Linked DNA regions of Homo sapiens. The protein of the gene in region 1 interacts with the protein of each later gene in a biochemical or structural test. Each region holds a gene or a part of one and is shown on either strand. Other genes may lie near its edges.

What was found. Proteins that work in one complex are often made in the same cells at the same time.
Region 2: the proteins of CCKBR (region 1) and CCK form a complex in vitro, tested with the Homo sapiens proteins (3 studies listed by BioGRID).

What each region holds. Positions count from the first base shown.
Region 1 is NC_000011.10:6,269,831-6,272,654, forward strand, and holds the end of CCKBR (gastrin/cholecystokinin type B receptor), read left to right. Parts: coding exon 1-90; intron 91-257; coding exon 258-507; intron 508-815; coding exon 816-973; coding exon of another isoform or gene 974-1,180; coding exon 1,181-1,713; 3' UTR 1,714-2,297; downstream 2,298-2,824. UniProt on the Homo sapiens protein: Receptor for gastrin and cholecystokinin. The CCK-B receptors occur throughout the central nervous system where they modulate anxiety, analgesia, arousal, and neuroleptic activity.
Region 2 is NC_000003.12:42,263,175-42,270,153, forward strand, and holds the start of CCK (cholecystokinin preproprotein), read right to left. Parts: upstream 3,012-6,979; 5' UTR 2,510-3,011; intron 2,264-2,509; 5' UTR 2,095-2,263; intron 1,734-2,094; 5' UTR 1,523-1,733; intron 774-1,522; exon of another isoform or gene 649-773; intron 459-648; 5' UTR 457-458; coding exon 243-456; intron 1-242. UniProt on the Homo sapiens protein: This peptide hormone induces gall bladder contraction and the release of pancreatic enzymes in the gut. Its function in the brain is not clear.

The DNA of each region.
Region 1 (2,824 bases):
TGGCTTGCATGCCCTTCACCCTCCTGCCCAATCTCATGGGCACATTCATCTTTGGCACCGTCATCTGCAAGGCGGTTTCCTACCTCATGGGTGGGTGAGACAACCACCCCACCCCCACTTGCCACTCTCCCCGCCTAAAGCTCTTGTGGATGTAGGGGTCTTCCCCGGTTGGCAGGGAGGGGTGTGAGGAAGTCCCACTGATGCTTGTGTAGTGCAAGTTTCCTAGGTGACTCCTTCCTTTCTCTTCCCTTGTTTAGGGGTGTCTGTGAGTGTGTCCACGCTAAGCCTCGTGGCCATCGCACTGGAGCGGTACAGCGCCATCTGCCGACCACTGCAGGCACGAGTGTGGCAGACGCGCTCCCACGCGGCTCGCGTGATTGTAGCCACGTGGCTGCTGTCCGGACTACTCATGGTGCCCTACCCCGTGTACACTGTCGTGCAACCAGTGGGGCCTCGTGTGCTGCAGTGCGTGCATCGCTGGCCCAGTGCGCGGGTCCGCCAGACCTGGTGAGCTTGCCCATAAACTATCCTAGGAATTCCTTTCTCACCCCTATTAGATGCTTACGACCATTGCCCAGAATCTTCCTCCAGCTTCCCGGAGAATTACCACGCCAACTCCTATTCTGCATCCACCACCCTGGAGTTCCAGTTTGGGGCCCCTCCCCAGTTCTCTCTCCCTTCCCAGCGGCACCCCCAAATCCTACTCCTACTTCAGGTACCTGGCCACAGCCCTAGAAACACTAGTCCTTGGCTTTTTCTCCATCTGTGATTACAGCTGGACAGAAACCCGAGTGATCTGTCTGTGTTGCCTTCAGGTCCGTACTGCTGCTTCTGCTCTTGTTCTTCATCCCGGGTGTGGTTATGGCCGTGGCCTACGGGCTTATCTCTCGCGAGCTCTACTTAGGGCTTCGCTTTGACGGCGACAGTGACAGCGACAGCCAAAGCAGGGTCCGAAACCAAGGCGGGCTGCCAGGTGGGGCTGGACCACGTGAGCAAAATCTGGGCGAGGCGGAGCTTTGGAGGGCGACGGGGCCTGCTGGAGTGGGTGGGACTGAAATGAAGGTGAGGGTGAGAAGGAAGCTGGAAATGGAGTTGAGCTGGGAGCGGAGGTCAGGTGGGGACTGGGCTGGAGACTGGGGGGACTCGCCTTTTTCTCTGACCGCCCACCCTTTGTGCTCAGGGGCTGTTCACCAGAACGGGCGTTGCCGGCCTGAGACTGGCGCGGTTGGCGAAGACAGCGATGGCTGCTACGTGCAACTTCCACGTTCCCGGCCTGCCCTGGAGCTGACGGCGCTGACGGCTCCTGGGCCGGGATCCGGCTCCCGGCCCACCCAGGCCAAGCTGCTGGCTAAGAAGCGCGTGGTGCGAATGTTGCTGGTGATCGTTGTGCTTTTTTTTCTGTGTTGGTTGCCAGTTTATAGTGCCAACACGTGGCGCGCCTTTGATGGCCCGGGTGCACACCGAGCACTCTCGGGTGCTCCTATCTCCTTCATTCACTTGCTGAGCTACGCCTCGGCCTGTGTCAACCCCCTGGTCTACTGCTTCATGCACCGTCGCTTTCGCCAGGCCTGCCTGGAAACTTGCGCTCGCTGCTGCCCCCGGCCTCCACGAGCTCGCCCCAGGGCTCTTCCCGATGAGGACCCTCCCACTCCCTCCATTGCTTCGCTGTCCAGGCTTAGCTACACCACCATCAGCACACTGGGCCCTGGCTGAGGAGTAGAGGGGCCGTGGGGGTTGAGGCAGGGCAAATGACATGCACTGACCCTTCCAGACATACGAAACACAAACCACAACTGACACAGGAAACCAACACCCAAAGCATGGACTAACCCCAACGCACAGGAAAAGGTAGCTTACCTGACACAAGAGGAATAAGAATGGAGCAGTACATGGGAAAGGAGGCATGCCTCTGATATGGGACTGAGCCTGGCCCATAGAAACATGACACTGACCTTGGAGAGACACAGCGTCCCTAGCAGTGAACTATTTCTACACAGTGGGAACTCTGACAAGGGCTGACCTGCCTCTCACACACATAGATTAATGGCACTGATTGTTTTAGAGACTATGGAGCCTGGCACAGGACTGATTCTGGGATGCTCCTAGTTTGACCTCACAGTGACCCTTCCCAATCAGCACTGAAAATACCATCAGGCCTAATCTCATACCTCTGACCAACAGGCTGTTCTGCACTGAAAAGGTTCTTCATCCCTTTCCAGTTAAGGACCGTGGCCCTGCCCTCTCCTTCCTTACCCAAACTGTTCAAGAAATAATAAATTGTTTGGCTTCCTCCTGAACTTCCTTTCTGGATTCTTCTGGGGCAGGTGAGGAGGCATAGGATTTTGCAGTATCCTTCTGTCGGGTCTCTCCCACTGTTGCACACTGCTGTGCACAACCCCTTGCCAGAAAGCCCAGCCTCTGAGGTTCAGCGTGGCTGTGCATATTCTTTCTGAGTTTTCATCCTCTACCTACATTCCAATGTTGCAATAACTGTGAATGGGGATGGAAAATGGCATATCCATGACATATCATGATTCCTGATCACATTATCCCAAAGTGGTGCCACTGTTAAGGTACTATATTAATGGATGCTTATTAAATTTTGATGAAAAGATAAAAGAGGAAGCACTGTATAATAAGACTAAGTTTATTCAATGTGTGTTTGAAACACCAGAGATCAGACCATGACAGGTATACAGAATGAATACAGTTAATTAAAGAGTAGGGATTTTTTGCTGTACTCTCTTCCCCAGTGTCAAAACCTGGCCAAGATTCTGCCAAATGGAAGCACTTTTAGTAGCTACAACAAAAAAAGACCTGAATA
Region 2 (6,979 bases), on another chromosome or scaffold:
AACTTAATCAGCAACACTGCTAAAAATTAGTTCAAAGAAAGCTTTTCAAGAAGGTTCCCCTTACTTATAAATTAAGTCCTCCATACCCCTTCTCAGATTGCTACAAAGGACCGCCAGAAATCATGTTGCTTGTTTCCTACCGAGAGAGGTCATCCCCATCAGGCTAGCGCTAGAGAAGAGGGTCAGCATCGGGAGCCTGGGAACAAGGGCAGAAGTGAGGGATGGGGAGGCAGCATTCTTACCTTTCCGGGCCTGCTGGATGTATCTTGCCAGCAGGGCGCCCAGGTGCGCTCGGGACTCGCCATCCGTTCTCTGCGATACCCTCAGCTGCCTACGGGGCGCCTCCTCTGCCCGCTGCAGCCCGGAGCCCGCGGGATCTGCGGGAGGCACCGGCTGCGTCAGGGCGCCAGCCGCCAGTACCGCCATCAGCACGCACAGGCACACGCCGCTGTTCATGGCTGTAGCGAGCAAAGGAGGAGGGCGCGTTAACTGAAAGGCTGGGCAACAGAGCTCCTGCGGCGGGCCGGGCACCCAGAAGCGGGCTTAGGACAAACACAGGTGCTCCAGACCCGCCAGGCCGCCGCAAGCACGAGGGCTCGCCAAGCGCTGACCCCAGCCGAGTGCCATGGCGCGCGCCCCCGGGCGCACCTGGCTGGTCTTTGGGAACTCCTCACCCAGCGCCAAGGGGCAGAGACCCTGTTTTCTGCCGTGTTGAGCAGAAGGAATGTTTTTGCTTTCCTAAAGTTTGAGGAAGTGTTTGCAGAGTGCCTCTCTTCTAACCGAAAGAAGAAAAATAAAACCCCACGAGATTAAAAATAGTGTGAAAAAAATATCCTAAAGGGAAGACTCCGTGGGAGAAATGAGAACCCTGGGGAAAGCACTTTTCCAGATAGCTAACAAGCTTTCAATATGGAAATACAGTAAATGATGAAAAAGAGAAGCACAGTTTAAAATGTAGGAGCAATAAATAAAGCCGTATTTATAAAGTTTTTCTCAAAGTGTACGTGGGAAATGGCAATAAGCCACTACGCAGAACATAGGCAGGTTTTAAAATCAGAAATATGTGCCCAGCGCTCAGGCTTCGAAAGCCCCGTGCATTTTAGATCGCTAGTGGATAAAACACCCTCAAGTTTCTATCCGTAAAGCCTCGAAATTTTCTGCAGTATTTAGAAAATGAATTTAAATCTTAAAACCCTCTAATATTTTATTAGAAAAGATTGCAAAGTCCCCCGCACCGCTGTGTAACAGCTAGCAAACTCAATCTGCATGCGAATCTTAGCGAATGGGTAGTTCATCCCTTAATGATGCTGGCGTATGAAAGGCTCTAAAGCAGCTCTACCCACCCAGACCTCACTTTTAGACCCAGAGCCGTTATTTCTGACTTCAAGAAATGTCTTTCGAGCTCTCGGAGGGAAGACACAGAAAATAGAAAAGCATAATGGAAATGGGCACAAAGCTGAAGACAGCATCCTTCAAAGACACACGACACTTGGATCCCCCGCTGACGAACCGAGGGACCTACCTTTTGGATTAGGACGCAGCTGGCTTGGCGTTTCCAACCGGAGCAGCCCGGCAGCTGAGCCAAGTTCAGGGAGGACCAGCGGGCGGCTGTCTCTTAAATAGCCCCACCCGGCGGCGTCGGCCAGTCATGTATTTACCCAACGCTGACGCAGACTGGCAGTAACACGTGCTCAGAGGGCGGCCACTGGGGCGACAACCGGTTGAAGTGGCTCCTGGGAGAGAGGGGGAGGTGGTCTAGTGGGGTGGAGTTAATCCCTCCCACGCGCGGTGCCGGGTGTCCGCCCCCTCTGGGTCCGAGAAGCTTCCGCCCAACCCTTTCCAGGTGCCGCTCCCCTGCGCATTCCAGAGCAGTACTCTCCAAGGTGGGAAACCTAGGAGTTTGGAGTCTCCTCCGGGATGGAGAAGCTGCCGCTAGCTTAGTTCGCTTTGGGGACCGGAGGGGCTAGAAAGGAAACTGGGGGCGGGGGTGGGGGGTGGACACTGGGCAGGACTGAGCATCAGCAAGGCGTGATTCTGAAAGGGAGGGGGCGTCGGCCCCCTACCCCGGAGCGTCCGAGGCGCTGGTCTTCATACCTGTGTCGGCTCTTTCGAAGGAGAGAGGAGGAGTCGGGGTCTTCACTTTCTTCTCAGCCGCATTAAAAGCCCTCGCAGTTCTCCAGGTTTCCGAGGGCCAGTGTTCTGGGTCAGTGAAAGGGCTCTGGCCACAGCTGGCTCTTGGTGTCCTGGGCCTCTCTTGACGCAGCTGTAAAATGCGGATGACACCATCTGGTTTTGCTCAGAGGAATCCGGTTTGGGAAAGGGATGTGTTTTCTTCCCGGGCCAAGTTACCACCACCCGCGGCGCCCACTGTTCCCCGTTGTCGACAAGCGGCGCCAGCGAGGGTCCTGGGGAACTTGACCACCGCACCCCCGCAAGCTCGGGTAGACCACGGCATCCGCCCCTCGCACCTTTCCTGAGGGCCCACACACTCACACCCCCAGGACAGTACCTTCCAGAACTCAGCTGCGCAGCCTGGAGGTGAGGACCTCACCCCTAGTCAGTCACCCGTCCGGTGGAGGGAAGGGAGGCACCGAGGCTGCCGTGCGCCTTTCCCTGCACGCGGTTACTCTCCCGGCTCCGGAGCGGGCCGACCTGGAGCCCCTCAGTGCGCTCTGGTCGTCTACACCCTGAAACCCTTTGAGTTCGAGTCCGCTTGCTGGTGCTTGAGTTCGCCGCGTCCCTGCAAAGGCACTGCCAACCCCATTTCACAGACCGCAAACCGAGGCGCGAGGAAGAGCAGCGCCTTGCCAAGGCTCCACAACACGCCCCTCGCCCTCTCCGTGCACCGAGGCCGCCCAGCCTGGGACCTGGAGATCACCAGGCCTTGAACCTTGGGACCTCAACTCCTCTCCCTTTCTTTCCCCCACCCGTCTTAGATGCAAGGAGAAAGATTTAGAAGCGCTTATTTTAAAATCGGAATCCGTATTCCGCTCTGGAATTCCCTCTGGAATGGAGGGACTGTGGCAACGCCAGTGTGAGGGTGGAGTGGGCGAGGCGGGGTGGGGGGGTTGGGGGGGCGGCCCAGAGACGCCTCCGGTTGCTGCTCCACTTTCTAATCCTGAGAGGCAGCTGCGTTTCTGCAACCTATGGGCAACATGTTTGAAAGAGCTGAAGCTGATTAAATGCTTTCCAGTGGTTTCGCCACGAGCCTGCTAAGGTTTGTGTAGTTCAGTTGCGAAAAAGAGTCTTATTTGTGATTGTGGCAAGACATGTCTGGAAACATAAACTTGTTATCGAAATACCCCCAGAGCTTCTAATTCAGTAGGTCTGAGGAAGGGCCCAAGAATCCGAATTCCTTCCTTCCTTCCTTCCTTCCTTCCTTCCTTCCTTCCTTCCTTTCTTCCTCCTTCCCTCCTTCCCTCCCTCCCTCCCTTCCTTCCTCCCTCCCTCCCTCCCTTCCTCCCTCCTTCCCTCCCTCTCTCCCCTTCCCTCTTTCCCTCTCTCCCTTCCTTCCTTCCTTCCTTCCTTCCTTCCTTCCTTCCTTCCCTCCCTCCTTCCTTCCTTCCTTCCCCCCTCCCTCCCTCCGTCTCTCCTTCTCCCTCTTTCCCTCTTTCTCTCTCTCTTTCTTTCTTTCTTCTTTATTTCTTTCTTTCTTTCTTCATTTCCTTCCTTCCTTCCTTCCTTCCTTCCTTCCTTCCTTCCTTCCTTCCTTCCTTTCCTTGCCTTTCCTTCTTTGAGACAGAGTCTCACTCTGTCGCCCAGGCTGGAGTACAGTGGCATGATCTCGGCTCACTGCAACCTCTGCCTCCCAGGTTCAAACGATTCTCCTGCCTCAGCCTCCCCAGCGGCTGGGATTACAGGCATGTGCAGCCATGCCTGGCTAATTTTTATATTTTTAGTAGAGACAAGGGTTCACCATGTTGGCTAGGTTGGTCTCGAACTTCTGACCTCAGGTGATCTACCCACCTTGGCCTCCCAAAATGCTGGGACTACAGGCGTGAGCCACCACGCCCCACCAAGAATCTACATTTCTAACAAGTTCCCAGGCCATACTGAAAATGCTAGTCCGCCAAGCACACTTTGAGATCATTTCTATAGAAATTCCCTACCTTATACCAGTTACTCAACTCCTGGCCTTGATCCATTTAATTCATGTTTATTCAACACTTACTTTGTGCCAGGCCCCAGGGATTCAGTATGAACAAGAGCTGACAATACAATAGGGGAGCTGAAGCAAACAAGTGGACAAACACTTCTCAACAATTCTGATATTTGGGGACTATGGAGTGGAGATGGTAGGAGGTAATCTTGGAGAAATGTTTTGGTGAGGGGAGCTAGGTGGTAATATGGAAGATGCCCAAAAGGCAGAGGGACTGGAAGGGGAGGGCTGGATAGGAGGCCCTCGGGGATGGGCAAGCAGGAACAATCAAGGTAGATTTGTTTTAGAATAATAAGCCATTATGAAACCCATTAATTATTAGGAAACATAATAAACATTATGCAAGTCATAAGTGTTCATCAGAGAACATTCAGAAAACAAAAGTAGAGAAAAGAAGAAAAATTCCAGCCTCCCAGGGAACAACCTGTTGCTGCTCAGGAAACTGGTAGAGGGAACCGGACTTGGTGACTGAGACTGACCTTGAGTTTCCAGGCTGGGAGACAAGGGTGGGTGGTAGAGTATTATCCAAGACAGGGAATTCAGAAGGAAAAGCAGGCTTGGAGTGTGGCCGTGGTGGTAGTGGGCCAGTGGGGAGCGGGTAATGAGTCCAGTATGGGATTGGTTGATCGTTTGTGCATTGACAGTCTAGGAGGAGTTTGGGAGCCTTTGTCCTGAGCAGAGAGACACTGGAGGGGTGGACCCAGAGTCTGGCATGTGGGTGGTGGCTGCCAGCCTGGGAGTTATAGGGAGAGTTGAGGAAGGCAGCTAGCAATGGGTGGCAGGGTGCCTCTAGACAGACCGCTGAGGAGTGACAGCGTGAAGGAGTGGGTGGAGGAAAAAGAGCTGGTACAGAACCAGACAAGTGGGCCAAGGAGGCCAGCGTGGAAATGCCAGTGCAGAGCCAGAGGTGACAGGGACCATCAGAAGCTGAAGAAGGGCTTGTGCATGGGCCTTTCTCATTTACGATCAAGAGAGCTGCTTGCCTCTTTATTGTAAAATAAAGCAGTTGTAGCCGCTTGTCTCTCAGGAGTGGAAATTCTGAGCAGGAAATGTGTGATAGAAGAGCTGCTAGGAAAATAGAAAGACATAAGGGATCTGAACTCCTTGGCCATAGTCATGATTTTTCCTTCTTACAGGGTCAACAGGTACTAATTATTCTGACTATGGTTCCTAAGCAAGTTAGGCCTGGAGCCGACACTATTCCTGTAATCCAGATGCATATCCGCATTAAAGATAATCCATTTGTTCACTTAAAAAAATGGGCTTGATGTCTCCTGAGGCAGATGCCTTTGGTGCTCCTCACCACAGTTCCACGTTCTCCCTCTGGCTTCAGCTGCAGCCTAGCCAGGCTGGGCAGTTTTCAGCAGACAGCATTCCCACTTCAAGCTTTCAAAGCACCCCTCTTGGCTTATCTCCTTCAAAGTTCAGCCCTTGCAGAGGTTCAGCCTGTAAGTTTGGGTGTTATCTCCCCGAAAGACAATCTTCAGCCAGTGGGGAATGGGAACCCCAGTCTCTCTGTATGAACCCTTCTGGAAGCTTCTAAAGACTTCTCAACGGTCCTTTGCCTGTATCGGTGAACTTGATAACAGCTCTCTCTCTCTTTTTTTTTTCTCTCTCTCTCTCCCTCTCTCTCTTTAGACAGGGTCTTACTCCGTCACCCAGGCTGGAGTGCAGTGGTGCAAACCCGGCTTCCTGGCTTAAACAATCTTCCCACTTCAGCCTCCTGAGTAGCTGGGAACACAGGTGCACACCACCATACTCTGCTAATACTTTAATTTTTTGTAGAGACAGGGTCTCACCATGTTGCCTAGGCTTGTCTCAAATTCCTAGGCTCAAGTAATCCTCCCTTCTCAGTCTCCCAAAGTGTTGGGATTACAAGTGTGAGCCACCAAGCCCAGCTGATAACATCTCTTTAGTTGTTTTTTCCTCCTTCTTTGTCTTACTCTTCTCATTTCTTCCTCCTCTCCCAAATAAACGACATGTACTCAAGTCTGTCTAATTTTAGTATAACCCTATCAAAGACACCAACTGTCTTTCGGGCACTGTTGGGATTCAGTGGTGAGCAAGACAGACAAAATCCCTGTGCTTGTGATGCTTCCATTCTAGTGGAGGAGACAGACAATTTAAAAAATACACAGCAGGCATGGAAGGTGCACACATGTTTTCAAGAAAAGTAGAGTAGGGGGAGGGTCTGTGGAGGACTGGGCACCCGCATGAACGTATGCAAACCACTGCTGGGGGATGCCCTGTTAGGCTGTCTGCTGTGTAGACCTTGCTATGTATGTACATTATGGAGAAATGGTTTTGCTTTTCAGTCCAAATAGAGAAAAAGGAAGTTGTATGGGAGTTCGCACTGTTTGGAGATTGTTTTGTATTTCATCAAATGTGAGACGGTAACTAACTTTTCTGCCAAGCTCATTCTCTTGTCTCAGAAAAGGAATGGAAAAGGCAGTGCCCTCTGTGTCCTTCCCACCACCACCCACTCTTCCCCATCATGGAATGAGACGCACCAGCTGGTCCCTGCCTTTATCTGGAGGACTGAGAGTGGAGGGTGCCATATCCAGATGCCGCGTTGGAAAGGAAATAGTGGAGAGAGGAAACCTGTGACTGTTCACTGGTTTGGAGTCTAGAAATTCCCATCTGATTGCGGTGAAATGAATTTAAGTAAGATCTTGCTCAGAGTTGGGGAGGTATCCCCGAAGATTAGTTCCTGAAACAGATATATTTTCAATACACGATTTTTTTAGTCATGAGACCTAGCTCAAAGACATATGTCAATTTTGTATGTGTAGAAAACTTAGTGGAATTTCCAGGGACATG